4 linked regions of the Homo sapiens genome follow. The protein of the gene in region 1 interacts with the protein of each later gene in a pairwise test. Each region holds a gene or a part of one and is shown in the gene's direction. Other genes may lie near its edges. The genes, in order: FRA10AC1, KASH5, ESS2 and MOB2.

Region 1 (7,152 bases):
ACTGCACTCTAGCCTGGGCAACAGAGAGATAACACTCTCTCTCTACTTATCTCTCTCTATATATACATATATGTGTGTGTGTATATATATATGTATATATTTAGTATTAGTACTCACATTGCTATAAAGAACTACCTGGGACTGGGTAATTTGTAAAGAAAAGAGGTTTAATTCACTCGCAGTTCTACAGGCTGCACAAGAAGCACGGCTGGGGAGGCTTCAGGAAATTTACAATCGTAGTGGAAGGTGAAGAGGAAGCAGACATGTCTTACATGGCAGGAGTAGGAGAAAGAGAGCAAAGAGGGAGGTGTTACACACTTTTAAACAACCAGATTTCTTGAAAATTCTATCACAAGACAGCACTAGGGAGATGGTGGTAAACCATTAGAAACCACCCCCATGATCCAATCACCTCCCATTAGGCCCCACCTCTAACATTGGGGATTACAATTCAACATAAGATTTGGCTGGGGACACAGAGCCAAACCATATCACACACACACACACATATATATGGTGTGAGCTTTGAAGTCACTTATATTTGTGCCCCATTTGCTTACTCATGACTCTGGAAGTGTTATATAATTTTTTTAAAAAAATCTGTTTTCTTATTGTAAAATAGGGATAATAATAGTACCCACTTCATTTGTTCAATAAATATTCTGAGCAACTATCATGTGTCTGGCACTGTGCTGAGCACTGGGGATTCCACACTGAAAAAGAGAGGTATGCTTCCTGCCATTGTGGAGCTTGCATCTCAGTGAGGGAAACAGGGCTAAATTATTACTACGTATGTAGCTAAGTGCAATGGAAAGTAATGTGCATATTATCAGTAATCCTATCTAGTCTGTGGGAGAGATGCTCATGAAAGGCCTTTCCTTCACCTAAGTTGAGTTTTGAAGGATAAAGAGGAGTTAGGGAGGCAAACAGAAAGGGTTTAAGACCATTCCGGGTAGAGGAAATGGTAAATTTGAAGAGGCATGCATGTTGAAGAAACAAAGAAAGCCCAGCGTGGCTCCATAACATCAAATGTTATGGAGGTTAAGTGAGACAGCAGATGGTTCTGGATATTTATCGGTATATAACAAACAACCTCAAAGTCTTAGTGGCTTGAAACAATTATACTTATTCTGATTATTAGTCTGCAATCTGGGTGAGGCTCAGTGAAGTTACTTCATCTCTGCTCCACTCCATGTCAGCTAAAGAAGTAGAGTGACAAACCCAGGCAGAAGCTCTAACACCTTTTGCAACTTAGCATCAGAAGTGTCTTAGCATTACTTCTGCTATAGTCACTGACATGCCCAGATTCAAAGCTGTGGCCATAGGTATTAGCTTATGTTAGAGAAGTGTCAGCATCATATTATAAAAAGAACATGGAAAATGCAATCTTCTCAAAGACACACAGTATTAGAAGAATGCATATTCAGCCAGGCGCAGTGGCTCACCCCTGTAATCCCAGCACTTTAGGAGGCCAAGGCGGGATCACTTGAGGTCAGGAGTTCGAGACCAGCCTGGCCAACATGGTGAAACCCTGCCTCTACTAAAAATACAAAAATTAGCCAGGCATGGTGGCTCACACCTGTAGTCCCAGCTACTGGGAAGGCTGAAGCAGGAGAATGGCTTGAACCCGGGAGGTGGAGGTTGAGCTGAGATGGCACCACTATACTTCAGCCTGGGTGATGAAGTGAGACCCTGTCTCAAAAAAAAAAAAAAGAAAAGAAAAGAAAGAATGCACATTTGTTGGGCGCGGTGGCTTACGCCTGTAAGTCCAGCACTTTGGGAGACCAAGGTGGGTGGATCACCTGAGGTCAGGAGTTCGAGACCAGCCTGACCAACATGGTGAAACCCCATCTCTAGTAAAAAAATACAAAAATTAGCCGGGCGTAGTGTGCGCCTCTAGTCCCAGCTACTCGGGAGGCTGAGACAGGAGAATTGCTCGAACCCAGGAGGCAGGGGTTGGAGTGAGCTGAGATCACGCCACTACACTCCAGCCTGGGTGACAGAGTGAGACTCGGTCTTGAATAAAAAAGAATGCACAGTCATAGTTTATATCAGAATTATTACTTGGTATTATCACCACCATCATCACCCAACTTCCCTCATCCTGACCACATACTTAATATAGTATTTTGTTGCTTTGAGTTACATAGCATTGGTGCACATTTAAATTTTCATATCCATTGAAATAACATATTTTATAAATTAGGAACAACAGGTTCATGCATGTACTAGACACTTGGTATATGATAGAATATATTGTTGTAGTTATTCCACACATTGTCTGTCTTACTAGTCAACCTTCAAGGATAAGGAGTTGCTGTTACATACCTGTAACCCTGATGTCTAGGGCAGTGTCCTGCCCAGAGTAGGCACTGAATAAATGTTTGTGTTTTTTATTGTTGTTGAGCTATAATTGTTAACTTGAGATTTCCTAAGCAGGTGGGTTTTCTATCCTGTATTATTTCTAGTTCAGATCATGCAATCTATGCCTAATATATATTTTCTATTTACTCTTTTTCAGTAACTGCTGTCTCAAAGTAAAAAATGGAAATCTTTGCCTGAATGGACTGGTAGCAACAGATCTGAAATTCTTAGAAATGTTGGAACCAGAAGCTACTTCCCACACAATCCATGAAGTGGGGGAGAGAGAGACAGAGAGAGAGAGAGAAAAGAGAGAAAGAGAGAGAGAGAAACTGGGTCTTATAGAGAGACAGACACAAGTACTACCCAGTTCTCGACCCTCACCAGGTTTGTGGCTTTAGGTTCTGTGCCTCTCTTCCTTATGTGTAAAATGAGGCTAATAACACAGCAGCACAGGGTTGTTGGAAGAGTAAAATGAAGCAACAAACAAGAAGATGCTAGGGATGGTAGAAAAATGCTAATAAATGTCAAATATGGATAGAAAGGAAATTGGATATGAGGTATAGGTCTGTTTAGTTTTATTAACAATAAAATAATTATATATTTAATATATTTACCAAAAAAGAAACTGCTTGACAAAATAATTCCATATACTATAACGTCAAATTGTAAGGCTTCCTATTGCTTTCACTTTTTTTAGTAAAAGTTTTTATTGAAGTATAATCTGATTGCATTTTGGAATAAGTTAATTTACAATAATTTAATTTATCTTATAGCCTTTTAAGATCACATTCAGTGCAATGGATAAAGCAGAATGTATCTATAATTTATTGTCAGGGTTAGAGACTTGAACTGATAAGGATATCGTTATCTACTGTTTAGGGCAAAAGATGTAAAATGACTGTGCATTAAGTGCCAAGGTTTTCTCTAAAAAGGGCCCACTGTAAACGCCAGAAGCGTGCCAGTTCAATTCAACAAATATTTAATTAGCACTTGTGATTTCCAAGGCACCGTTTTGGGTACTGAGGAGGAAGCAAAAAATGAATAGCTGCTAATGCCAGCGAGAGACAAGACATGAACCAAACAACTAGAGTGGAAAGAGTGGGGCGTCGTGATGTAGAAAACGCAAAGCACAGGAAGAACCTAGTGGCGCTTAAAATAATCCAACTTTTCCTGCCTTTTTTCTTCTTCTTTTTAAGATTCTATTTTGGATCCCTTTTCGCATGTGCCAGGTCGCTTGTCGGCAGAGAATCCTCAACCCTGAGAAATCTCTCCTCCTATTCTTTCTTTCCTCACAAATTCGATGAGCTCTTCTGCCATCAGCACTGCTTTTGGAATGGTATCTATTGTGTGGGTGGCGAAACGATGGAGAGATATTTTTGTTCTAATTATGAGAACTGTTTTACTGGGGGAAGGAGGGAGAGGCTGATCTGAAGCGCTGATGAGCTGCTCTGAGAGGATCCTCCGAGGAGGCGTTACTAAGGTTACTAGAGAGAGGACGGCAGGTGATAGGCACGGTAAAACAAAATATATTTTCAAATGAGAGGCGTGGGCTAAGCAGCAAGCAGTGCCAGCGGTACTAGATGCCGGATTCCCTAGAGGGGAAAGGAAGGAGGCCCAGGGAAAAACTGGGAGCCGCGACTTGGCGAAAGCTGGAAGCCTCTTCGTCCCTTTCCGGGCCGTTTCTCCCGCTGCCCTTGTTTCCCGGAGCTGTTCTGGCTGTAGCACAAGGTCGGCGCACTCGGGGGACGGTGCCATTTAGATGTAACACGTGGCCGTGTCGGACCGGAAGTGGTGCCCAGTCGGGACCCGTAGGGAGAGGCGGGTTGCGGGCGGCGGCGGCGGCGGCGGCGGCGGTGGTGGTTGTGGCGAGGCTGTGCGGCAGGGCGCACGGGACCTGTGCTGCAGCGGCTCTCTCAGGCCGTGGGTCGTCGCTGCAGCTGCCGGGAAAGAAGGAAACGACGACTCCGGGGGCGAACTTGGCACACAGGGAGGAAGGGAAAGGGTGTGTGAGGAGGGCTGTGGGTATATTTGGCATCAGGGAGAAGGACCTCAAAACTTGTTTTTCATATAGTACTAGCTGATCGTCGGGTTTTTTTTTGTTTTGGTTTGGTTTTTTTTTTTTTGGATGACAGATTCTGGAGACACCTGGCATCTCCGTTTTTGAGTTTCTCCCCGCTCTTGTCAGTTGATTCGTAGGCCTGAAGTGAGTGAGAGCTTTTTAGTTCAACCAGTGAGTTAAGATAGGTATGGGTCGGATGGAGCGGCCAGCGAATAAAGAAATGGGAGAGTGGGAGCAAGAATAGGAAGTCGTGTCCTGGGGCGAGGGAAAAGATGATGATGATGATGTAACATTTACTGGGTTTCACTGTACAAGACACCGTTAAAACCCTTTAGATGAGGCAACTCTTTTAATCTCCATTCGTATGAGGTCAGCCATCTTACTAGCCTCTTTTTATAAATGAGGACACTGAGGCTTGGAGAGGTTAAGGAACAGGCCCAAAGAAAGACAAATGGAAAGTGCAGAGCCAAGCAGTGAAATCTAGTAGGCTGATCCTAGAATATATCTCTAAACACACTACAGCTGTCCCCCATCAAGATGTAAAGAACGTGAGGACATAGGACAAAGAGTGAGAGGACAATATGGCTTGAACAGATGTGGTAAGACAGCTGGAGTTGACCTAAAAAAGGGTGTAAAATCCAGGTGTGTAAGGCAATAACAGATGTAAGGGAGGGTAGAGTTGGAACTCGGGCTTTCAAACCTTCATCTCCAACCTTAACTAGCATCTTCCTATCTAGGATTTTAGTGGGGCAGAGAAGAGAGGTATATACCCACACACCTATGTTTGAAAATGGAATTACAGACTTTAAAGGTTATTTAAAGATTTAAACAACTTAAAGATTATTTCATGTAGCTATCTTATTTAATAGATGAAGTCCAGGGAGATGAAATGACTTATTCAAGGTAGCCAGGACTAGAAACATGTCGTTTACCCTAGATCCAATGCAATGAAGTTTAGAGAGTTCTTTCCTCTTTTTCCAGCTGCACTTGCTGTCGTTATATTAGTTTTAACAATTTGATATATCATTTAACCTGGACTGTTCCTTCCAGCCATGTAAATTAGTTATGTATGACATCAAATAGTCCATCCTTCCTTCTTAGTGTGTGTTCCAAATTCAGTGCAAAGCTGGAACTAGGAGCTTCTTCCAATACAATTGAGTGGCAACTGAGGTCTTCCAGCATTTCTAAGAATTTCAGTTCTAAAATGAAGTCCCAGCATTTTGGGATGCTGAGGTGGACGGATTGCTCAAGCCCAGGAGTTTGAGACCGGCGTGGGCAACATGGCGAAACCCCTTATCTACAAAAAAAAAATTTTTTTAAGTTTGCCAGGTGTGATTATGCACTCCTGTAGTCTCAGCTACTTGGAGAGGCTGAGGTGGGAGGATTGATTGAGCCCAGGAGGTTGAGGATGTGAGCCATCAAGGCGCCACAGCACTCCAGCCTGAGCAATAGAGCGAGACTCTCCAAAAATAACTGGATAAATAAAATGAAACAAGAGAAAGCTGACTAATCCAAAGGGCAAGGTGGTTTACCTTAAAGAAACTCAAAAGAAAATGGAAATCTCTACATATATTGAAAAAGATTACAGGAAAATTTTCATCAATTGATGATGTACTGTTCACAAATACTGTAATTCTCCTGGAATATAGTAAATCATATTCCAGAGAGGAAATTTGGAGTAATTGAAATTGTGGGCGCAGGAATCAAGTACAGCAGATTAGCCACTTACTGGATTTGTAAATAGATTTACTTAACTTTGATTACTTCATTCCTAAATGAAGATAACTTTCTAACTTGCAGAATTAGAAGTGTTGTTTGTAAAGTATTTAACACAATGTCTAGAACAAAGTTGGTGATAAACACACAGTGATTATTACTACTCTGAATCAAAAGTGAAGGATTGCTAAACCTTGTAAGCAGTCACTGCAGCTTTTAGGCCTGGTTTTTCAGTGAAAAGATCAAAGAGTAGCCTTCTTTGTTCACCTAATGATAATTAAGGGTGAAAAATGTTGATGCATTTCCTGAAAGGTATGTCTCTTATTTAAAAGCGAATGAAAGTTTTAGATGGCTAGATGGCCTGTGAATAGGAATCTGCCCACAATGATCCTTTAAAACTATTGTGGCTGTTTAAGATAACTTATTTTTGAATTATTGTTTCCTGGACAATTGGCAACATAGATTCTAAATAGCTGACTTTGTACTCCTTTACAGATGCATGGTCATGGAGGCTATGATTCTGATTTTAGTGATGATGAACGCTGTGGAGAATCCAGCAAAAGGAAAAAAAGGTAAGTAATTTTTTTTTATTGATCTATTTTTCACATCCTTTCTAGATTAATATGAAGTATAAATAAACAAGAGTGAAATTTTTGAATTCTGTTTACATGTGAAGACAATTGCTCTAGTGAATGAATTTTTGTTCATTAAGCTAATACATTGATTAAAAATTGGAGAACAATTGTGGGAAAAATAAAAATTAATTCTGCAAAGGGGTTTATTGAAAGGGAAAGAAGAGTTTCAGATTTCTGGAATCTTTTCAGAAATCAGTGAAACCTTTTCATTACATATATTTTTCATTCAACTGTCAAGGACTGTTTATTTGTAAATGTTGTAGCTCAGAAGGGGCTTGAATGGTGGTCTCTTGCCATTACTTGCCTTCAAAGTGAAGTTAATATGGAGGATGAAAGTATAATGCAGCACAGTTCTTACGCATACGTGAATGAGCAGAC
Region 2 (7,019 bases), on another chromosome or scaffold:
CCCCTGCCCCGCTTCATTTCTCTTCACAGTGCTCACATCTGTATGTCATGTTTTGTCTCTGTCTCCCCTGCTAGAGCATGAGCTCCACAAGGCAGCGTCTGTTTTATTCACTCTGGTATTCCCAGTCCCTAGAGCAGCGCTGTCCTGTGGAAGTATAATATGAGCCACATAGGTAATTTATTATTTTTTAAAAGAAAAAAGGAACAGGTGAAATGAATGTTGATAATGGATTTTCCTTATATAGCCAGACTAATACCCTGTATATTATATATGTATACAGGATATACATACATAGAGATATATATATGTATATAGCCAATATATAGCCAATATAAAAAATGTATCCAGATAATCTGTTTTTTTCATACTAAGCCCTAAAGATCTAGCGTGTACTTTACACTAACAGAGCATTTCAGTCTACACTCGCCTCAGTTCAGGTGCTCCAGAAGGAGAGACTGCCCTGTTGGCTGGGACCCCAGAGCAACTCCTGACTCACTGTGGGAGCTCACTTACTGTTGAGTGAACGGACGGATGTAGGTTGAACGGGTGTGAAAGCTGGCTTCAGAGGGTGGGGAGGAGGCACTGGGGTTGCCTCTCTGAAACTCATCTGCCAAGTGAGAGAGCCCAGTCTGATGGGGATGGTAGGGCCCCTTTCTTAGAGGCTCCCAGGCATCCACGGCACAGCCTGCGTCTTTTTCTACAAAGCCCCAGACCTCAGGAGGCTTTCCAGATAGGAGGGTCAGAGGTAGACACCAGGGTGTGGGAACCAGAGGACAGGCTGTCTAGTGACAGCCATCTAAACTTCACCTGCACCAGCAGAGGGCGTGCAGCCACCAGGATCCGGGTGGCAAGGGCTGAGACAGCTTCGAGAGGCTCTGGAAGGAAAGGTAGGAACACACCCAGAAGGAGAGATGGAGACAGAGGAAGGCAAAGGGAAAAAGAAACAGCAGAGGAAGGAAAGAGAAGACTTAGGGAATGGAGAGTCTCTGAGATATGGGAAGGGAAGCACAGAGACTGAGATACAGGGAAGAAAACGGGGACAAGCGACATGGAGGCAGAGAGACAGGACGTGGGGAAGAGAGACTGGGAGAAAGATAGAGAGAAAGAGCCAAAGAGAAATGTAACGAAGAGGCAAGGACAGAGACATAGAGGAGATAGAGACACTGAGGAAGGAGATCTTCCTGAGGAACAGAAATGACATCTCCCTGGGGGAATCCTGGGATGCGACTTCAGACACATGCTGATCCTCAGAGCCAGCACGACCTGATGCCAGTCCTGAGTTCTATTCCCAGCTTAGCTCTCTCTGGCAAGCAGCCCTGGGTGAACCATCTCATTGGGCCTCAGGGTCCTCGTTCATGTAACATGAGAAAGACACTGAGAGGGCTGGGTATGGTGGCTCACACCTGTAATCCCAGCACTTTGCGAGGCCAAGGTGGGCGGATCACTTGAGGTCAGGAGTTCGAGACCAGCCTTGCCAACAGGGTGAAACCCCATCTCTACTAAAAATACAAAAATTAGCTGGGCCTGGTAGCAGGCACCTGTAATCCCAGCTACTCGGGAGGCTGACGCAGGAGAATTGCTTGAACCTTGGAGGCAGAAGTTGCAGTGAGCGGAGATCACGCTACTGCACTCCAGCCTGGGTGACACAGCGAGACTCCATCTCAAAAAAAAAAAAAACAGTGAGAGGAGGAAAACAGACTGGGGCTAAAGCCCTGGTCTCCCCCTAACTGTGAGTCCACACGCCCCTTCCCAAGGGCCAAACCTAGGAGCATAGGTTCAAGACAGAGGGGGTGCAAATTTCACTCACTGCAGAGAATCCTGGAAGAGTTAGAGGGATGAGAAAGTTGACTCATATGTTAAACAGGGTGACCTTTGGCGAGTTCTTAGTTTCTCTATGCCTTAGTCCCCTCATTTGTAAAGTAGGGATTATAATAGCATCGATTATTATTATGCTAGTAGACAGTTCATGTAAAGTGCTCAGAAAAGGCCTGGCACCTACTAAATGCTCAATAAGTGTTCAATTCTATTCTTGAGTCCCCACCACGTGCCAGGCCTTCTGCCAAAGCCTTTCTAGATTGTATCTCATTTTCTCTCTAGGAAAGAGGTAACACCAACCCCATTTTCCAGAGGAAGAAACTGAGGCCCAAGAGAAGTTGAGTCCATTGCCCCAGGTGCCACCACTTGTCTGAGGCCAAGCCTCGGTTGCCCCCTGGATCTACCCCGTCCTGCAGCCTGTGCTCAGTGAGCTGCTGCACCCAGCTGTTCAAGGCCAGGGCAGGGAGCCTAGAAGTTCACTTCCAGCCCTGGGAGAGAGGCTGGGCCAGCCCAGTGGCTCCTGCAGTTGAGGATCTCTTCCTATGTCATGGAGCATTTGTTGAGCACCTGCCATCTGCAGGTGTTGTGGCTACAACAGTAGACAAATAGACCCCAGGACGTGTGTGTGTGTGTGTGTGTGTGTGTGTGTGTGTGTGTACATGCGTGTGCTTCACATACACAGAGCTAACTCAGCCCTGGTGAGGAGGATCACTCTACCCACCCCCCCAGTAGGGAAACCGAGGCTCTAACAGAAGAGACTTGCCCACAGATGTGCAGCTGGACTCTGCACCCAGGTCTGACACACTGATCCAGCTCATAACCATTCCCTCACTGCCCACCCTGTCTGGTTTACCCTATCCCTTCATGTCTCAGCCCCTGGCCATGGGCTCCAATGATGCCACCCTTGCCTTAGGGATGCAGGGAGGAGAGAGACCTGGTCCCCAGGGTGGGCTGGGAGACCGGAGATGCAGCAGGCGGGATCGATCTGGGCTGCCCATGCATTATTGGATTGTTCCTGGCTCCTGGGCCCCCCCTTCACTCTCAGCTCCTCCCAGAATCCTCTCTTCTTTGCCCTCCCCGACCCTGTCCCTCTCTGAGTCCAGCCTGGGAGGCTGGAGAGGAGAGGAGGAAAGGGTGATCTCAGAGCGTTCTTCTCTGGGCTCCTAAGCCAATTGGACACAAAAAGACAGCAGGGGGGACTTCCTGGTTTGAAAGATGGGGGGAAGTAACTCAGAGACCCTCACATTGTTGCCCCCTCCTGAAGCTTCCTGCTGTTCCCCACCCGCCCGAACTCTCAGTGCTCTGAGTGAATTCCCTCCCCGCTACAGAGCCCAGGAGGCTGAGGACCTGGGGTCACCCCTCTTCCTTCCTTATTCTTCCCACTGGTGAGCTGAGCCCTCTTGTCTCCCCAGTGTACCTCCGGGAGCGGCCTGAGGAGGCAAGGCTGGGAATGCCGGTCAGCTTGGAGGAGCAAATACTCAACTCCACGTTCGAAGCTTGTGACCCTCAGAGGACAGGTGGTGGGGGCATGAGGGGTGCTGGGGACCAGTGCGGGCAGGATGGGGTGGAGGCTGGGAACTGGGGAGCCTCAGAGAGAAGACTGGGCTAAGGCCCCCTCTTGGGGGTATTGTAAGAACAAAGTGGGTGATTATGGGAAGCTTCAGGAAGAAGAACGTGGATAATGGGGTGAAGGCCTTTTAGAATGAGGAAAACTTGGGGGACGTTGATGGAAGAGGGCAGAGTTTTGGGGTCGTGGGATAGGGGAGGGAGGCAGCCACCATGGTGGCGTGGGGCATGGCTGATGCTGTCCCTATGTCCATCCCCTTTGGTTTACCCTGTGATGGGGGGATGACTGGGCCCCATTTCCAGGTGAAAAAGTGGACTCAGAGGAGGGGAAAGGGCTTGCCCAGTGTGTCTCCACTGGGCCATGGAGCAGGAGTGCCACCAGCCTAGCCAGTGACATCCTGGTCCCAAGCTGCTGCCAGTCCATACCCATCACTCCCCACCTGCCCCAGACCCCCTCACTGCATGCTCTGTCACAGGCACTGTGGCTGTGGCCCAGGTGCTGGCCTACCTGGAGGCTGTGACAGGCCAGGGCCCCCAGGATGCACGCCTCCAAACATTGGCCAACAGCCTGGACCCCAATGGGGAGGGCCCTAAGGCCACTGTGGACTTGGACACTTTCCTGGTTGTCATGCGTGACTGGATTGCTGCCTGTCAACTACATGGGTGAGTCCCCACATCTTCATCCTCCTCTGGGAAGTCCTTCCTAAGATCTAACCTCATACCTGCTTACTGGAGCCAGCATCCTTTAGGCCCAAGGACCTACTGTGTTTGGAATGAGGCTGTGGAGAGAAAAATGAAGAGACGGGATTCAGAGGGGGTAGATAGGGAGTCTGAGGACAAAATAATTTGGATGAGGAAGCAGAGGGGGTCTGGGAGACAGAAATAAAATGGGGCTGGAGAAGGGAGGAGTTTGGGGCTGACAGAGGTCCCTCCCCAACCCTTCACCAAACCCACTCCTTGCCCCTCCTGCTTTTCCATCTGGCCACGGGCACTTGCCATCTGGCCTCACCCTCCTACCCTGTGGTGCCAGCTCTCACCTGACCCGGTCCCCTCCTCCCACCTGCAATCCCCCTGCCTGTGGCTGGTGAGGACTGAGGGGCAGCTACAGTGGGGCGCTAAGCCTCATCCCTTTGATACAGGGGATTAGAGCTGGAAGAGGAGACCGCCTTCCAGGGAGCCCTGACCTCCCGGCAACTGCCATCTGGTGAGATTGCTATATATAGAATGAAGCAGGCAGGCCCTGGGTCAGACAGTGTGGGGACTTACCACCCAGGGCAGAGCAAGGGATAGGGTAGGAACCAGGGACCTTTACTGTAGACTAGAGCTGTGAGTGTGGCTTTCTAGGTCCTCCGTCCCTTCCTTCCGTGAGCTTTGGGTTTCTTTTCTTCAGAGGGTGGTTTCCAACTCGTTCTCCTCACACCAGCCCTATTAGAGAGGCCTACGAGGCCCCGCCTACCTCTGCTCCATCATTAACATCACCTCTCCTCACTCTAGTCCAGGAATTCACAGGCCCACTGGTCTTGCTGCCCTTCCTCGAATGTGCCCCACTTCTGCCCAGCACAGGTCCTTGCTCAGGCTGTTCCCCTCCACTCCTTGCTCCCCACCCTGCTGGACTTTTTTTTTTTTTTTTTTTTTTTTTTTGAGATAAGAGTTTCACTCCTGTTGCCCAGGCTGTTGTGCAATGGCGCAATCTCAGCTCACCGCCACCCCCGCCTCCTGGGTTCAAGCAGTTCTTCTGCCTCAGCCTTCCGCATAGCTGGGATTACAGGCATGCACCACCACGCCCAGCTAATTTTGTATTTTTCATAGAGACGAGGTTTCTCCATGTTGGTCAGGCTGGTCTCGAACTCCCGACCTCAGGTGATCCAACTGCCTTGGCCTCCCAAAGTGCTGGGATTACAGGCGTGAGCCACTGCGCCAAGCCGTCATCCACTCCTCTGGCAAAGGGGAAGCCCTGGTATGCCCCTGGCTAGAGTTCCTTGCTCCCCATGCTCACTCCTAGACTTGTAGGCCTTTCCATTGGAACATCCACCTGCAGAGGAAATCTGATTATCTAGTTAGCCACTGGCACCTGGGTTTAGTTGGCTGGTTTGCTCACCATTGTATCCCCAGGACCTCACACATAGGAGGTGCTCCATAAAAAAAGTGGTCATGATTACAGGCGTGAGCCTGTAATCCCAGCATTTTAGAAGGCCAAAGTGGAAAGAACATTTGAGCCCAGTAGTTTGAGACCAGCCTGGGCAACATAGTGAGACACCATCTCTACTAAAAATAAAAAATTAGCTGAGTGCGGTGGCATGTACCTGTGGTCCTAGCCGGGACACTGAGTCAGGAGGATCGCTTGAGCCTGAAAGGTCAAAGCTGCAGTGAGCCATGCATTGCACCACTGCACTCCAGCCTGGGCAATAGAGCAGGATCCTGTCTTTTAAAAAAAAAAAAAAAAAATGGTGGTCATGTTCCATTTCTCTAGCCATACAAAAAACGGTGGGGAAGGAAGTTCTCTTCAACCTCCTTCATCAGGCTTGGGGGCCCAGGGAGGGCTGCAAGCAGAGGAGGGACTAGAGGCCAGAAGGCCAGAGAAGAGGCTCTGGTGAGGATCCAAGAGGAGAAAGCAAGGGCCGGGGCATGGAGACAGAGAGGAGGGGTGGAGCAGAGAGTCAGGGGCAGGAGGGAGAAGTCTGGGCTCTGCTGGACTGGGGGTGACAGGGAGCAAGGGAGCCAGGTCCGCCCAGTGGCTGAGTGGTCGGTGGGGGATCTGGGAAGGGGAAGGTGAAGTGCTGCCCAGTGTTGGGTGTAAAGAATGTGGGGAGTTAGGGTTATCTGGGAGATCCAGCCTGAGCTCAAGGTAGAAGACAAGCAAGAGGGCTTTACAGTGGGTATAACTGCAGCCCCAAAAGCCCATGAGATTCTCCAGAGCACAGGTGAGGGTGGAGGCAGATGGAGTCCAACCTCAGAGCCCTGGGGCACTTTACGTTTAAGGGTTCCAGGGAAGCCAACATTCTCTTGGCTCTCTCCCTCCAGGATGCCCAGAAGCTGAGGAGCCAGCCAACCTGGAGAGCTTCGGAGGCGAAGACCCCAGACCCGAGCTGTACCTATCCTCACACCCCTCCCTGACCCTCCTGCCCACACCCTGTCCCCTCCAGCCTGCCGAGGCCCGGGTAGGGCTTGGGATCCTTCAGGGAAATGAATGAGGGACGGGGCTTTGCTGAAAGTTCAGGGAGAGCAGAGGAGTCTCTCTCCTGTTTATCTTTCCCCAAAAGAGCCACATCTCCCCACCACCAGCACCTACCTCGACCCGGGGAAATGAGTCAGGGGCTGTGGACAGTGACCTGAACCCCTTCCTTGCCCCTAGACAAGCCACAGCTGACCTGCTGAGCAGCCTGGAGGACCTGGAGCTCAGCAACCGACGTCTGGTTGGGGAGAATGCCAAATTGCAGCGGAGCATGGAGACAGCTGAGGAGGGGTCAGCACGCCTTGGGGAGGAGATCTTGGCTCTGCGTAAGCAGCTTCACAGGTGGGCTGGATGCCACACCCACCCTCCCCAGCGCCCCTGCCTCCGTCCTCCCTGCAGCAGCCGGCCTCTATCTCCCATGCTCGTGTCTGCATCCTGCTCTTTGACTCTGTACCTGTCCTTTCTT
Region 3 (7,019 bases), on another chromosome or scaffold:
TCCCTTGCACAAGAGCAGAAGCTTTGTTTTGCTTTCATCTGTATGCTCCGTGTTGGGAACAGCACATGTGGTGTTGTGGGCCTTGCACAGATACACATGGAACAGATGAAAGAGTTGTCATCTTCAGCATGTTTGCTGGGACACACAGCTCTATATGGTAACATCGTGACTTGATGGGGGAGTCGGTTTAGGAAAGGGCACTCCGAGTCCTGTTGAATGCAAGTGTTCTGCACGCCATGGGACTTCTGCGTTGTCAGGCCCTCTTTTCATCAGTAGTAGAATGTCAGTGCATGTATAGACAAACGAGACACTCTTTCTTATCAGTTTGTAGACTCCACTGTGCTGGAGTAGCACAGATGTGTTGTGTGTTTGCACAAACATGCAAACATGATACTTTTTGCTTTACAATCCAGCTTTTTCGGCCATTAACACAGTCCTTGTTGTCCTTGAAGCTTGATTATCTGTTGAAATGTAGCTTGTGCATCACAGGGCAATTTGTAGATTTTTTTCTTCTCCTTTTTTTTTTTTTTCCTATAGAGATGAGGTTTCATTATGTTGCCCAGGCTGGTTTTAAACTTCTGAGCTCAAGTGATCCTCCCACCTTGGCCTCCCGAAGTGCTAGGATTACAAGTGTGAGCCATCATGCCTAGCCAGTTTGCAGATTTTCAATACCTGTACACCTACATGCCAGTAAATATAGGAATCCTTTTCAGAACCTAAGTGGTAGGAACCATCATCATGTTTACAGGTGAGGAAACTGAGGCTCAGAAAGGCAGTCACTTCTGCAGGTCTCAGAGATGGTCAGGGTTTCACTTCTTATCTCTCTGAGATGAATAGAGTTTCTGACCCCTGTCCTCATCCCGTGGGTCTTGAGCTTGTAGCCACTGTGCCTTGTGCATAGCCTCACGTGTAGCAGGTGGTCAGGACTGTCACTAGACTTGAAGGCAGAGCTCTCCAGGTGGCCCCACCGAAGTTTGCACCACCACACGCAGCACCAGGGCACCACCTCAGTGGGAGTACCACTTTCCATGGTGGCAGGGTTGGTCGGAGGGGGGGGTGTTTGGGGTTGTGGCTTAGCACCTGTGAGGCCCCATCCAGAGGACTAAGTCATATGAGATCCCTGGAATTGGGGCTCGCTCTCAGGTCAGGATGATTAGGCGATGACCACCCACCTGTAGTACAGGTACCAGGAAGAGAAGAGTGGGTAAGGTAAGGAAATCCTAGGGAGTGAGGGAGAGCCCCAGGGATTTGGAGGCCTGGCACCCACAGGCCTGGCACCACTTTGGTGGGGGAGGAGCCTGCCTGTGATCACGAGCTCTTGCTCTAACACCTGTATTGCTTTCTCCAGTCTGAATCAGACCACGTAATTCCCTTGGCATCCAGCACATGAGCAGAGCTGGCCCTGAATCTGTAGGGTACCACCTGAGGGCTCTCTGGGCAGTCAGGGTGGGTGGATTCTGCCCCCGTGGGGAGTCCTTGGCAGTGTGGGCTTTCATGGGCAGAAGCCAGGACCAGGGGAGAGGATTCCAGCCCTGCATGTTGGGGGCTATGATTCCTGGGCCTGGGTGTCCTCCTCTTTCCTGACTGCAAAGGGTGCTGTGTTCCTCCTCCCGCAACCCCTAAGCAGGAGAGGCTGGAGAGGAGGAGGAGAAGGAGCCGCTGCCCAGCCTAGATGTCTTCCTGAGCCGCTACACGAGTGAGGACAATGCCTCCTTCCAGGAGATCATGGAGGTGGCCAAGGAGAGAAGCCGGGCACGCCACGCTTGGCTCTACCAGGCTGAGGAAGAGTTTGAGAAGGTGTCTCTGGGGTCTGGGGTGTCACATAGGCGTAGGCACCCTCTGTGGTGGTTGGGGAGCCCCAGGGCCATGGGTACAATGCCCAGGGGCATCTCTGACCATCACTTTTCCCCATGTGATTGCAGAGGCAGAAAGATAATCTCGAACTCCCGTCAGCAGAGCACCAGGCCATCGAGAGCAGCCAGGCCAGTGTGGAGACCTGGAAGTACAAGGCCAAGAATTCCCTCATGTACTATCCAGAGGGTAAGTGGCGGGCCTCGCAGCCAAATGGGGAGGTGTTGGGTAGAGCTGTGTGTGTCTGGCTGTGTTTGGAGCAGCCTTCCAGGTGTGTATGGCCGTGCCCCCTTGCAGTTTGGGCTTCTGATGGGTACTGGTCTGTCTAAGGGTGGACAGGTCTGTGTGAGGTCAGCAGTGAGTGAGACCCTCTCCAGCGGCACTGGGGCCTGCGTTCTGCTCAATGCTTTTGTTCATCTGGGAGTGACTTGGCCGAGAAGCGAGCTCCTCATGCTCCTTAGGCTGCTGCCCTTCTGACACCTGCTGCTACCTTTGCTTCGTCTGCCAGGTGTCCCTGACGAGGAGCAGCTGTTTAAGAAGCCCCGGCAGGTGGTACATAAGAACACGCGCTTCCTTAGGGACCCCTTCAGCCAAGCCCTGAGCAGGTGCCAGCTCCAGCAGGCAGCCGCCCTCAATGCCCAGGTGAGCAGGCGGGTCAGCAGGGCCGCATGGGCCAGGTTGGACAGGGCTGCCTGGGGGCAGGCATGATCTCTCCCATCTCTTTGAGCTTGGCAGAGCTCAGTGAGTGGAACCATCTGGGGCCCTGTGCGGCAGGATCCTGAGTCTTTCCTTGGCCCCAGTGGGCTTCCATTGAACACTGCCTTGGTCACACACGTTCTGTAGGTCCAGATCTGTGCCAGCTCCCTTGATGGCAGGGGCAGGAGAGAAAAGGGACTGCTGGGAGTGAGCCCAGGCTGGCAGCTGCACGCCCACACACCGGGCAGGGAAGCCAGAGAGCCGCAGAGGGAGCCCAGCCCCAGGGGGTGGCTGGGGTGGGACAGGCCCTGGGTTGGCAGAGAGCAGAGGCTTTCTGAGTCTGGGAGCAAGACGAGTAGATACTCTCTGATGGTGACTGTGGCAGTCACAGGGTTGAAGTGGGGAAGGCAGGAAGAGACTAGAGCATAAGCATTGCCTGTCATCAGCATTGCCTGTCATCAGCATTGCCCCCTGCAGGGGCCTGGCGTCAGCATCCTCTGGAGTTGCTGGGATAGGCGCAGCTCGAGTGGAGGCCCTGGCACCTCCCTGGATGGGAGGAGGGGGCTTTCCTTGCTTGGGTACCCACTTTGACAGGCCCTCAAGGTCTTTTGGGGGGTTGGGGCAGGGGCCCTCCCTCTCTTTCTCCAAGAAGGCTGCCAACCCCAGAGCCCCAGCCTTGCCCTGAGGAGAGGAAGTGTTTCCAGCATGTTCCCACGTGTTTGCCCACCGGCCAGCTGTCGAGCGTGGGCTGCGGTCCCCCTGATGCCAGCCTCTCTGCTTGTTCCAGCACAAACAGGGCAAGGTGGGCCCCGATGGCAAGGAGCTGATCCCCCAGGAGTCCCCTCGAGTGGGTGGATTTGGATTTGTTGCCACTCCTTCCCCTGCCCCTGGTGAGAAAAGTGCCCACTGGCAAGTGGGTCTACTGCTGGGACTCCCTGGGGGAGGTGGGCTTCTCAGTCGGCCCTGGCCACTCCTGGCCTCTACCTGGCCTGCCCCACACCTTGTGTAACTCAGGGACCTGGTCTCCTGTCTGTACAAGGCCCTAGAGGCCAGGTGTCCAGGCTGCTTGGGGCCGTGGGTGGGCTGGACTCTCAGGCAGACCTGGCCTGAGACATCCTGGGATGACGTGTCCTGTCCTGGTCCTTACTGTGATGTCAGTGGGTGGGGGTGTGTGCACAGTGCTTATGAGTCTAAGTCTACCTAGCACTGCAGGGAGGGAGGCCCAGCACCTCAGTGGAGGTGAAACTCAGGTGGTCTTGTGGCATGCGTGGGTGTCCCTCTGCACTCTGGCCTCTGTGCTCTTGGGTGCTGGTGCTGTGTCACACGCCAGGGCATGTGAAGGCACCACAGGTTTGCCTGGGGTTCTAGGAGGTTTGGGAGCCCTGGAAGGCCTGAGTGTCTCCTCCTGCGTGGCTGGGGGAGACCTCCCAGAGGCTTGTAGGCTAAGCACATGGCTGTAGGGCCTTGAGCCTGCCTCGGGCCTGCTGGGAGCTTGGCATTTCCCTTTCGGAGGATGGAGGTGCCAGGGTTCCAGAGTCCTGGGGAAGGAGAGAGGGCTAGCTGCCTGCCTTCGTATTAGCTGGGATGCACATTGGGTGAACAAGCTGTGACTGGAGGGGAGGGTGGTGGGGAGTCCTCTGGCCTGAGGTGGTTTTGGGCTCTTTGTCTGCAGGTGTGAACGAGTCCCCGATGATGACCTGGGGGGAGGTTGAGAACACACCCTTGAGAGTTGAAGGGTCGGAAACGCCCTACGTGGACAGGACACCCGGCCCAGCTTTTAAGGTGGGTTGTGGTGATGGGGGAACTGTGTGCGACCGGGGTGGACACCTCTGGAGCCCTGAGTGCCTGTGGCTCAGGACTGAGCACTGGGATCGGCCCCCAGCTGCTGACGGGCAGAGTGCTGGCTTTTCTGAATGCCAGGGTGCTGAAGGCAGGTGTGGGTGGGTGGACCTGTCACAGAGGGATTTGGGGGTGTAAGGGCTGAGACACCAAGGCAGGGAGTGGCTTGGGCCCTCTGGATCCTGGAGGCCGGGTGCTGTTCATGAATGAGGCAGGATGGTCACAGACACGTGAGGAGCTCTGCAGGCCTGAGGGCCATAGGACGAGGCTGTGTGCTTGTAGAGAAGGCCCCTGGTTACAGAACACGATTGGGACACGCTGGATTACACGGCTCAAGCCTGGTGTTGTAGGAGTGGTCAGGGTGGAGTGTGTGAGGCCCGGCACAGACCAGGGGAGGCTCTTCGTGGGCTGGGTCAGATACAACAGGCCTCCCCATACCACTGCGGGCCTTTCCCCAGAATACTTAGTACAGGTAACCCATGTCCAGACAAAACATGGGGAGAGGTTCTGGTTACCTTGGTTCTAAATTGTCTGGGACACAAGGATAACCAAGGCAAACGTGCGAGAGGGATAATGAAGAGGATGCCGTGCTGTCCAATGTGAGAGCGCAAGGCAAGGGCTGAGGTGCTTCTGAGGTATGCCTGCCACTGCTTCCCGAGTCTCCAGGCCAACAGTAAACAGATAAATTCTGAAACAAACCATGATCCAAGTCAGAATTTGGGGCCCGATAAAGATGGCAACTCAGATTGCACTGAATAGCAGAGTATTTAGAAATGAAGGGAGCTGGGTCCTCAGGATGTGTAGCAGCATACATTGTGGAAAGGTGAAAAGGTTACATGTAAAAACAATAACCATAAAACAACCAGAAGAAAATAGTGGCGAATATTTAGTTTGATTTTTGGGTTCAAGTGATTCTCCTGCCTCAACCTCCCAAGTAACTGGGACTAGAAAATAGTGGCGAATATTTAGTTTGATTTTTGGGTTCAAGTGATTCTCCTGCCTCAACCTCCCAAGTAACTGGGACTACAGGCGCGTGCCACCACGCCCGGCTTATTTTTGTATTTTTAGTAGAGATGGGGTTTCACCATGTTGGCCAGACTGGTCTCGAACTCCTTGGCCAGACTGGTTTCGAACTCCTGACCTCGTGATCCACCCACCTCAGCCTCCCAAAGTGCTGGGATTACAGGCGTGAGCCACTGTGCCTCGCCTCTTTTTTTTTTTTTTTTTTTTTTTTAACAGATAGGGTTTCACTCTGTTGCCCAGGCTGGAGAACAGTGGTGCAATCATAGCTGATTGTAACATTGAGCTCCTGGGCTCAAATGACCTTCCAGCCTCAGCCTCCTGTGTAGCTGGGACTAACAGCATACACCACCATGCCCAGCTAATTTTGTGTGTGTGTGTGTAGAAATGAGGTCTTGTCATTTTGCTCAGGCTGGTCTCCAATGCCTGAGCTCAAGTGATCCTCCCACCTTGGCCTCCCAAAGTGCTGAGGTTCCAGGTGTGAGCCACCACTCCCAGCCTGTAGTCTAATCTTAAGTTAGGAGGGACTTTCTAAACATAAAAGCAAAGGAAGAAATCACAAATGAAAATAACAAATACAGCAGAAAATGTTATAAATGAAACAAATGTAAATGAGTGAAAAAACATGTGCACAGCGTAGCACAGTTGACTTGACACAAGGTCTTGGCAAGGGTCTTCTGAGTAACAGCAGCAGAAAAGGAAAATGAGCCCCTTGAGAGCAAAATAGGCCACAGGCACACGGGGAAGCGCCCGAAATACAGAGCGCCGATAAAGACAGAGATGTTCACTCTGATAATCAGGGAAACACTAAAACAGACTGCTTTTTCCTGAGAGATTGTCAGAGGTCATGGTTTTGGGAGGAACACGAAGACAGGTGAGGAGTGCTGCGCCTTGGGCAGGTCAGGTGGGGTTTGGGGCTTTCCAGGGGCTTTTAGTGGGAGGTGATGGGTTGTGGGGGTTTTGTAGGCAACAAAGAGAGGCTGGCACCCACCACAGTGGCTTTCTGTGTGAGGGGCTGCCTGGCGTGTGGCAGGCCTGGCGCAGCTACCCACACACCTGCTACCTTGTAGATCCTGGAGCCAGGCCGCAGGGAGCGGCTGGGTCTGAAGATGGCCAACGAGGCCGCTGCCAAGAACCGGGCCAAGAAGCAGGAAGCCTTGCGGAGAGTGACGGAGAATCTGGCCAGGTGAGGGGCCGCCTGGCTGGTGGGGAAGTGCGAGGGTGGCTCTGGCCTGCTCCTGTTCGGCCCCTGCCCTGACCGTGTGGAGGCATGGCCCACGCGGCAGAGTCCAGGGCAGGTCCGCGGGGTTCTGCAGTGGGTACTGTGGCAGCTCCTCTATCCAGAGCATGGCCGCACATGGACAGGATGAGAGGCCCCCTCCATCTTCTCTTTCCTCCACGTCCTCTTTGACCCGTCCCTAAGAGGCATCTTTAGGCGTGTGGTCCTGCTGGGAGCTTTCATCAGCCCTGTGGAGAGAGTCATCGTTCCCCTTGGAGAGGGGTGGGGACTCCAACTCTCAGAGGCCTGGGGGTGCACCCCAGCCCCCACAGCCAAGGGCGGTGCTGCTGTTTGACCTCAGGTTTGACCTGAGCGCTGCTGTTTGACCTCAGGG
Region 4 (7,977 bases), on another chromosome or scaffold:
TCATCTGTTATGCGCGTGTCTTCGTCTGTGTTGTGCGTCTTCATCTGTTGTATGTCTTCACCTGTGTTGTGTGTCTTCACCTGTGTTAATGTGTGTGTCTTCATCTGTGTTGTGTCTTCGTCTGTGTTGTGTGTCTTCGTCTGTGTTGTGTGTCTTCACCTGTGTTATGTGTGTGTCTTCGGCTGTGTTGTATATCTTCGTCTGTGTTGTGTGTCTTTGTCTGTGTTGTGTGTCTCCGCCTGTGTTATATGTATGTCTTCGTCTGTGTTGTGTGTCTCTGCCTGTGTTATGTGTATGTCTTCGTCTGTGTTGTGTGTCTTCATCTGTGTTGTGTGATTTCGTCTGTGTTATGTGTGTGTCTTTCTGGGATGTTTTAATTGTCAGTGGGAGAGTGTTACTCTCCTCTATTCTTCTTGATTTTCATTGGACTCAACTGTGAAACTTTCCTGCTTGCTTTTAAGTGACCCCACTTTCCCTGTGCCTTTGTGAGGGTGCCGGGGGCATTGTTTTGCTGCTTCCGTAGCTTTTGAGCTCCTTCTTCTGTTGTTTTCACAAAGTGATTAAAAACACGAAGCTCTCCACGAGTCTCCTTGTTGGAGGGGAGGCTACAGACGAGCAAGTGGAGGGGCCAGTGTGGTCCAGGCAGTGATGGCTGCAGGGGTGGGCTGGAGACCTCAGGGGAACCCCTGCTTAGCTTAGTATAGATACAAATGTCGACATGTGGGTGGAGATTGAGGCGTATGAGTGCATGTGTGTATACACATGTGCCTCCGTGTTCTTCCAGCTGAGAGGGCCTGGAAGCAGTGACACCCACTAGCAACGAGCCCACCCAGTGCTCTGATCTTAGTGTTTTCGTTTCTCGTTTGTGTAGACCCAGGCTGGAGTGAGGTGGTGTAGTCATGGTTCACTGCAGCCACCAACCTCCTGGGCTCAAGTGATCCTCTCACTTCAGCTCCTCAGTTGTTGAAACCACAGGCACATGCCACTATGCCCAGATAATTAAAAAAAAAAAATTGTTTTAGAAATGGGGGTCTTGCTGTGTTGCCCAGGCTGATCTGAAACTCCTGGCCTCAAGCGATTCACTTACCTGGGCCTCTCAAAGTGCTCTTGAGATTCCAGATGTGAATCAACGTGCCTGACCAGGTCTCAGTTTTGAATTCATTCATTACTGTTTTGGGGCAGGGTCTCGCTCCGTCACCCAGGCTGGAGTGCAGTGGTGTGATTATGGGTCACAGCAGCCTCAATCTCTTGGGCTCAAGTGATCCTCCTGCCTCAGCCTCCCATGTAGCTGGGAACACAGACACACACCACTATGCCTGGCTAATTTTTACATTTTTTGTAGAGATGGGGTCTCCCTTTATTGCCCAGGCTGGTCTCAAACTCTTGGGCTCAAGTGATGGTCCCTTCTTGGCCTCCCAAAATACTGGGATTACAGGCATGAGCCACCATGCCTGGCCATTTTTTTTTTTTTTTTTTTTTTTGAGACGGAGTCTTGCTCTGTCGCCCAGGCTGGAGTGCAGTGGTGCGATCTCAGCTCACTGCAAGCTCTGCCTCTCGGGTTCACGCCATTCTCCTGCTTCCGCCTCCCGAGTAGCTGGGACTACAGGCGCCTGCCACCACACCCGGCTGATTTTTTTGTATTTTTAGTAGAGACAGAGTTTCACTGTGTTAGCTCGGATGGTCTCGATCTCCTGACCTTGTGATCCTGACCTTGTGGGAGGCCCGTCTTGGCCTCCCAAAGTGCTGGGATTACAGGCGTGAGCCACCACGCCCGGCTGCCTGGCCAGTTTTTAATATTTTCTAATGAAAAGAACCAGGGCTCCTTGGAGAAGGGGCTGATTCCCGGGCTGGGGCTGGGAATGCAGGGGGAGCCTGGAGCACCCTGCAGTGCCAGGAAATCAGGACATGCCCCAAAATGAAAAGTCTGTTGATGGGGGTGCATCAGGGGACCCAGCAGCTGATGGCAGGAGCTCCCCAGGGCCAAGGACGGACAGTGTGATTCACAAAACAAAGTAGTGTTGTGTTCTAGCTCGGAGTGCAGCCTCAATAGCCAGGACTTCATCCCAATATAAACAAATGGCTGAATATATAAATGAGTGACCAAGAAGAGGCCGCTCTCTGGTGCCGAACTTCCAGTAATTCCCGTAGCTACTCCTCCGTCAGGGTGGTAAGGGGTGGTCCCCACCCCTTCAGTGTGGTCTGCGTGCAGCAGCTTCGTTCGAGAGCGCGGTGCGGGGCGGGGAAGACGAGAGCGTCTTTGCGTGGGGAGGCCTGGCAGTCACAGCCTCAGCCAGGAGATCGGGAGCACCTCCCGCGATGAGCCGTGCTGACAGGACGGGCCGTGGGCACGGGGCGACGAGGGGGACATTTCCCTCTGTGCTCTTCCTACCCACACCCACAGCCCAGCCTCGTCGTGAGGAGAGCAATGGATGGATCCAGACGTCTGAGTCAAGTTTGGACCTTGCTGCATCAATGTGGATTTGTTCATTGTTAACAAACAGACCATCCTAGTGTAAGGGTTAGCAATAGGAAGAGTGAGTGGGGGGCCATGGGGATTCTGTGTTTGCAGTTCTTTGTAAATCTAACACTTTTCTAAAACTAAAAGCTTATTAAAGGTAAAATAACCTCTGACACAGACACATGGCCCGTGCCCCCTGCCCCGTCCCGCCTTGGTTGCGACCGTTCCCCCCTGCGTGGTGCCTCTGCCCCGCTCCTGTGCTCTCTGTTCCTGGCCAGCTCCTGGCCCTGGCTGTGCCCAGAAGGTGCTTTTGCTCTTCCTTTTCTGGGGTGGCGGGGCCAGGCCACACTGGCACCCGTCACTGGCCTGCGGGCCTCTGTGGCAGCTCCTCGTGGAGTCTGCAGAGCCTGCTCCAGGTCTGCTCCTCTTCCCAGTGCAGTGTCTGTCGCTCAGTGTCTGTGGGTTCCAGCTGCCCCTCACCCTACCCCACTCCTGCCCCACTACCTAAGTTTTGATCAATAGGAATACCTGCTCCCTGCACGTGTCCCCCAGTGAACAAACACAGATGAATGTGGACGTTCCTCTGGCGCCAGCCCAGCCCTCTCGGGACAGTGGCATAAGCCACAGAGCTGCCGTGTGCTGACCAGACCCACTGGGCACACTTGGTGTGCTCCCCCACCCTACCGGGCACCTTGTCTTGACTGTTCCCCCGCCCCCGTGCCACCCTCACCACTGCCTTGCCTGGACCAGACTAGGCACGCTTGGTGTGCTCCCCCCACCCTACCCGGCACCTTGTCCTGACTGTTCCCCCGCCCCCGTGCCACCCTCACCATTGCCTTGCCTGGTTGCCTGGCTTCTTGTGCCCGAAGCCTCCACCATCCCCAGCTTCCTTTATGCTCTGCCCTCCAACCCCCAGCAGCTCATTCTCCCTGTCATGGGCCTCTGCACGGCCTTCTCTGTCCAGGCCATGCCTCCCGAGAGTGGGCAGGTCTGCGTCATGCACCTCCTGGTCCCAGCCCTGCTACTCACGGGGGCCTCCCCAGGCCTGGAGCCCGCTCTTCCTGTGGCTCCCTTTGCCACTTGGGTGACCTGCCAGCACCTGTGTCCCTGCTGTTGGTGGAGCCCCCGAGGGCAGACCGGCAGCCGTGAGCACGGTGCCTAGGTGCGTGTGGCACCACAGGGCTGTGGGATGGCCTTGCCAAGGCAGAGGAAGGCCTGTGGGCGCATGGACGTCCTGAGCCTCACCGGGCTGTTTGTTCTGTAGAGACCAGTTACGCACTGCTCAGAGCATGGCTTAGGGACTGGCCTAGTGGGGAAAATGAAACTGCAGCCTGTTGGGCCTGCTGCTGCTGCTGCTTAGGGAGGCGGGGGCCGGCCTGGGGCCATCCTCTGCTGTGGCTCCTGGAGAGTGTGTCTGTGCTGGGTTGGTGTGCTGTCTCCCCGTGCGCCCAGGCTGTGTGTGTGCGTGCAGTCCAGACACCACAACTCCCATGGGGGCTGGTATTGATGGGGGTGAGCCTACCCTGGCTGCTTTCCTGATGGCTCTGTGCTCCCCGCAGCAGCTGGTACCTCAGGCTGTGTCCTGACTCCTACAGGGCTTCACACCGACAGAGGTGCTGGGACAGCTTCTGAGGGGCAGTGGCTGGAGATGCTGGGGTCTCTTGATTGGCAGGAAGCACAGGAAGTATGGCTCCCATGCGGGTGGGGGATGCTCCTGATGACCCCGTGTTGTCAGGGGGCTGTCACTGCCAGTGGGGTCCACGCTGACTCAGGATGAGGAGAGAGCATTGCCCTCTCAGGTGTTTGCATTTTCAGGATGTGGTGGTCTCCTGTGTGCAGACCAGCCAGAAGGAAGGCCGGGGCCGTGCCGCTCTGTGCGCCCCCATGGGGAGCTGCTGTGGGCATTTCTGTTGGGCTGGGTGCCCTGTGGTCCTGGCTGGCAGCAGCCTCAGCCCAGCACCGTCCAGGCACCGCAGAAGCTGGTCGGCCCCTTCTCTCTCCAGGGCCATCCAGCAGGAAAGCCACTTTGAGTGCCTCCAGCTGCGTACACACTGCAGGGCAGGGCGGCCCATCTGTCTGTCCGTCTGTCCGTCCCTGGCCCGAGCACTGACTGGGCTAGGCTGGGCCGGACAAGGGAGAGGGGAGTGCCATCGACCTGGAGCTCGTCAGCAGAGTTGCTGCCTGTGTTCAGAAGGCCTTTCCTGGGGGCTTGGCAGCAGAGGACCTTGAGGTGGAGCCCAGGACCTTTCTGATGGATCCTTCTTGCAGGCCAAGGACGGCCCTGTCCCCTCCCTTCTGGTCCCACCCCCACCGCCTCTTCTGGCAGCCTGAGGTGGAGCCCAGGACCTTTCTGATGGATCCTTCTTGCAGGCCAAGGACGGCCCTGTCCCCTCCCTTCTGGTCCCACCCCCACCGCCTCTTCTGGCAGCCTGAGGTGGAGCCCAGGACCTTTCTGATGGACCCTTCTTGCAGGCCAAGGACGGCCCTGTCCCCTCCCTTCTGGTCCCACCCCCACCGCCTCTTCTGGCAGCCATGCCACTTGGAAAAGGCCAATTCAGACGCTCCCTCGTTTCACCAGCCTTGGCCAGCCCTTGCCTCTGGAAAGGGGGCAGCTGTTTGTCTCTGCCAGGCGTCCCATTGGCCAGGGAGTGAGGCTGGAGGGCCCGGCAGCAGGCATTTGCGAGTGCTGGCCAGCCGGCACCCCGCCCCGCTTCTCCTCCCCACCTTCCCGTCGCCCACTCATGCTGGGAGACCACTGCAGTCTCCCTGAAGACCAAGCCCGGCCCGGCCAGTCCCTGCAAAGTGGACTCTGCTGCAAAATGGTGCTTCAGGCTGTCAGCAAAGTGCTCAGGTAACACCTGCCAGCCTGGCTGGGGGAGGGGTGTGTAGCACATCTGTCTGCCCTGTTCTTGCCCCCAGGAAGGAGGTCAGGGTGGGGAGGCGGCGGACTGTGTCCGTGGCTGCCCTCCCAGTGTGGCCGGCGGCTGTGCAGCGAGCTGTGCTGGGCCACACGCAAGCTGTCCAGGGCAGAGGCGGCTGTGCAGTCCCGGGCCAGCCTGGCGGGTTTGCTCTGGAGCCCTGCCCAGTGGGGCTTTCCTTAGCCGCCTGCACTTCCTGTTGCTCTGTGGGAGAGGAGCGGGTCTTGGTGTCCTCGACCTTCGGGGTTGACCCCACCTTGCCGGCACAGGAGCCTGCCTTGTCCTCCCGCAACCCACAGGGTGTGGTTCCTCAGCCGCCAGCAGGTGTGCCTGTCTTTGTCCCAGCGTGCGGCTGTTTGTGCCCTGGGCAGGGGCTTCAGCCACCCAGGCAGAGGTGACCCGGAGTCTGTCCTTGTGTGGCCTTGTCCAGAGAAGTGGCATGGGGTTCCCGGGTGCCTATTTTTGTGCTGGCTGCCATAGGGATGTTGCCGGAAAATCCATTTTTGACATTTTTCTCACCTGTACTTTCTCTGACCTGCTGCGGGGGTGCCTCCCTGCCCACACCACTCAGCTCGGTGTGTGCAGGGGCGTGTGTGGGAGTGTGCGCCCAAGTGTGTGGGAGCGTGCACCCGTGTGTGTGGGAGTGTGCACCCGTGTGTGGGCATGAGGGGCCGGGGGAGTGGGGCAGGCACAGCCAGCTGCAGCAGTGAGTGTGTCCTCCCGGGTGGGGTTGCCTGGTGGGGGTGTGAGGCGAGCGTGGCCTGCTGGACGTGCCCTCCAAGGGCCGGGGGCTGCGGCACCCGTGTGCATCTCCGTGCCTCTGCCTGTCCCTGGGCACCCGGCTCCATCTTTCTCTTCATAGGCTCCTTCCCTATCTCCCGATCACCTGTGCATTCAACAGGGAGGGCTCCACAAGTAGACACAAGAGTGCCGGCCGGTGACCCTGCCTAGGATGTCCTATCTTAAGGTGAAACTGTGAGGTTTTGGAAATGTGTGGGCAAGTTGGCAGTACTCGTGAGTTCAAATCAGGAATGGTGCCTGACATCAGTGGTGTGAGGGGACTGGCGTGTGTGTGTGTGTGCCTGTGCCAGTGTGTGCTTGTGTGTCTGAGGCCAAATGCCGAAGGCAGCTCCACAGGAGACACAGAGGCAGGCCTGGAGCCCAGCCAGGCCCTAAGGAAGACGGGCGGAGTCCCTTCCCTGGGGCTCAGGAAGGTTTCAAAGGAAGCGATGAGGAAGCCACCTTGGCTGGGAGCTGGATGCATGGAGGGGCCGAGGCGCAGTGGAGCATGGTGGCCACGTGGGGCTGAGGTTCTAGGACAGCAGCAGCACCTGCCTGTTTGGACGTTTGGTCTGGGATGTCTGCGGGCGTTCCTTGTGCCATCTTGGCTTTTTCCTTCTCAATGGGCCTCTGCAGAGGGCACAGTAGGCTGGTAAAAGCTCGCTTTGTCTGGGGCTGCTGACCTGTTTGGGGGGGCAGACAATTAAACTCAGAAGAAAAGAAGCCACACTCCACAGCTTCCAGCTGGCTGAAGCCTGTGGGCAGTGCAGGCTGTGCTGAGAGATGGACAGGGGCTCCGGAGGCCTTCCCACCCCTCAGCCTGAGGCCGTGTGACAGAAGTGGGATCAGCACCCAGGGAGAACTCGGGTTAGAACACGGTGTTAGAAATGCAGTTTTCAGGCCCCCCCTCAACACCCAGAAGGCCACATCAGAAATGTAGGGGTGGGGGTGGCGCCAAGCACCCCAGCATGTGGTGCCCTCCCTGCATGTTGGGGTGACAGGAGGTGCCCGTGGCGTGCACCCTGGGCAGCAAGGTGTGCTGAGACCCAGGCTCTGTACCGGGTGGCTACTGGGGGCTCTGCCTGGCCGGGTCTTGGGGGAAGGGGTCACTGGGAGCCTTGACTTTCAGGCTCTGGGTGGACCAACCAGCACTGACATTCACCCGAACCAAGGAGCATGAGGGGCCCGGTGCAGATGGCTGAGTGGGGTCCAAGGACCATGCCCTCCTCAGAGGCGTCACCTGCGGGCCTTTCTCCTGCACCCCACACGCTGCCTGGTCACCGTATTTTCCAGGCCTGGGCTTGGGGACTTGTATTTCTGGGCCCCTCGTGCCTGCCCCACCCCTTGGCGTTGACCTGTGGTGGGAAGTGCCAGATGAGGGCCACCTCCTGCTGCTGCCCACTCACCTCAGGGTCTACAGGCTCGACTTCCATAGCAAGCGTGCTCTGGGCGAGTGGGGGTCTCTGAGCCTGGAGCACCCCATTCCTGTGGGCCGTGGGGCCTGGCCAGGATTCCATCCCTGTGATAATGAAGTTGACACTCGTGGCAAAGGTGCAGGGCACTCGGTTGTGCTGTCCTCGTCCCTCAGGGCGGATGAGGAGTGGGCGGCTCCCAGCCCACTCCCCAGCTCCCCCTGCCTGTGAAGCAGTGTGCACCTGCTGTGGGCAGGGTGAGACCCCCTGTGTGTTGACTGTGTGGTTGTCTAAGTTTTCCACGGGAGCCCAGCAGCTCTGATGCCTCCCTGTGCCCCTTCCCTTGCCCACCAAATTTGTGTCTAGCAGGGATTGCCTCACTTCCCAGTAGGGATCAGTTACGTGCTGG

The links.
Region 2: the proteins of FRA10AC1 (region 1) and KASH5 interact in binary tests that used the Homo sapiens proteins (3 or more experiments, as listed by UniProt).
Region 3: the proteins of FRA10AC1 (region 1) and ESS2 interact in binary tests that used the Homo sapiens proteins (3 or more experiments, as listed by UniProt).
Region 4: the proteins of FRA10AC1 (region 1) and MOB2 interact in binary tests that used the Homo sapiens proteins (3 or more experiments, as listed by UniProt).

Annotation. Positions count from the first base shown.
Region 1 is NC_000010.11:93,699,589-93,706,740, reverse strand, and holds the start of FRA10AC1 (protein FRA10AC1), read left to right. Parts: upstream 1-4,148; 5' UTR 4,149-4,366; exon of another isoform or gene 4,367-4,567; intron 4,568-4,945; exon of another isoform or gene 4,946-5,065; intron 5,066-6,634; coding exon 6,635-6,711; intron 6,712-7,152. UniProt on the Homo sapiens protein: May be involved in pre-mRNA splicing.
Region 2 is NC_000019.10:49,391,249-49,398,267, forward strand, and holds part of KASH5 (protein KASH5), read left to right. Parts: intron 1-2,097; exon of another isoform or gene 2,098-2,151; coding exon of another isoform or gene 2,152-2,152; exon of another isoform or gene 2,153-2,171; intron 2,172-2,228; exon of another isoform or gene 2,229-2,584; coding exon of another isoform or gene 2,585-2,609; intron 2,610-3,227; coding exon 3,228-3,332; intron 3,333-3,857; coding exon 3,858-4,044; intron 4,045-4,520; coding exon 4,521-4,585; intron 4,586-6,402; coding exon 6,403-6,469; intron 6,470-6,733; coding exon 6,734-6,895; intron 6,896-7,019. UniProt on the Homo sapiens protein: As a component of the LINC (LInker of Nucleoskeleton and Cytoskeleton) complex, involved in the connection between the nuclear lamina and the cytoskeleton.
Region 3 is NC_000022.11:19,134,633-19,141,651, reverse strand, and holds part of ESS2 (splicing factor ESS-2 homolog), read left to right. Parts: intron 1-1,624; coding exon of another isoform or gene 1,625-1,627; coding exon 1,628-1,797; intron 1,798-1,922; coding exon 1,923-2,040; intron 2,041-2,359; coding exon 2,360-2,493; intron 2,494-3,172; coding exon of another isoform or gene 3,173-3,232; exon of another isoform or gene 3,233-3,334; coding exon 3,335-3,437; intron 3,438-4,219; coding exon 4,220-4,329; intron 4,330-4,705; exon of another isoform or gene 4,706-5,313; intron 5,314-5,392; exon of another isoform or gene 5,393-5,443; intron 5,444-6,476; coding exon 6,477-6,592; intron 6,593-7,019. UniProt on the Homo sapiens protein: May be involved in pre-mRNA splicing.
Region 4 is NC_000011.10:1,483,779-1,491,755, reverse strand, and holds the start of MOB2 (MOB kinase activator 2), read left to right. Parts: upstream 1-4,976; 5' UTR 4,977-5,199; coding exon 5,200-5,309; intron 5,310-7,977. UniProt on the Homo sapiens protein: Stimulates the autophosphorylation and kinase activity of STK38 and STK38L.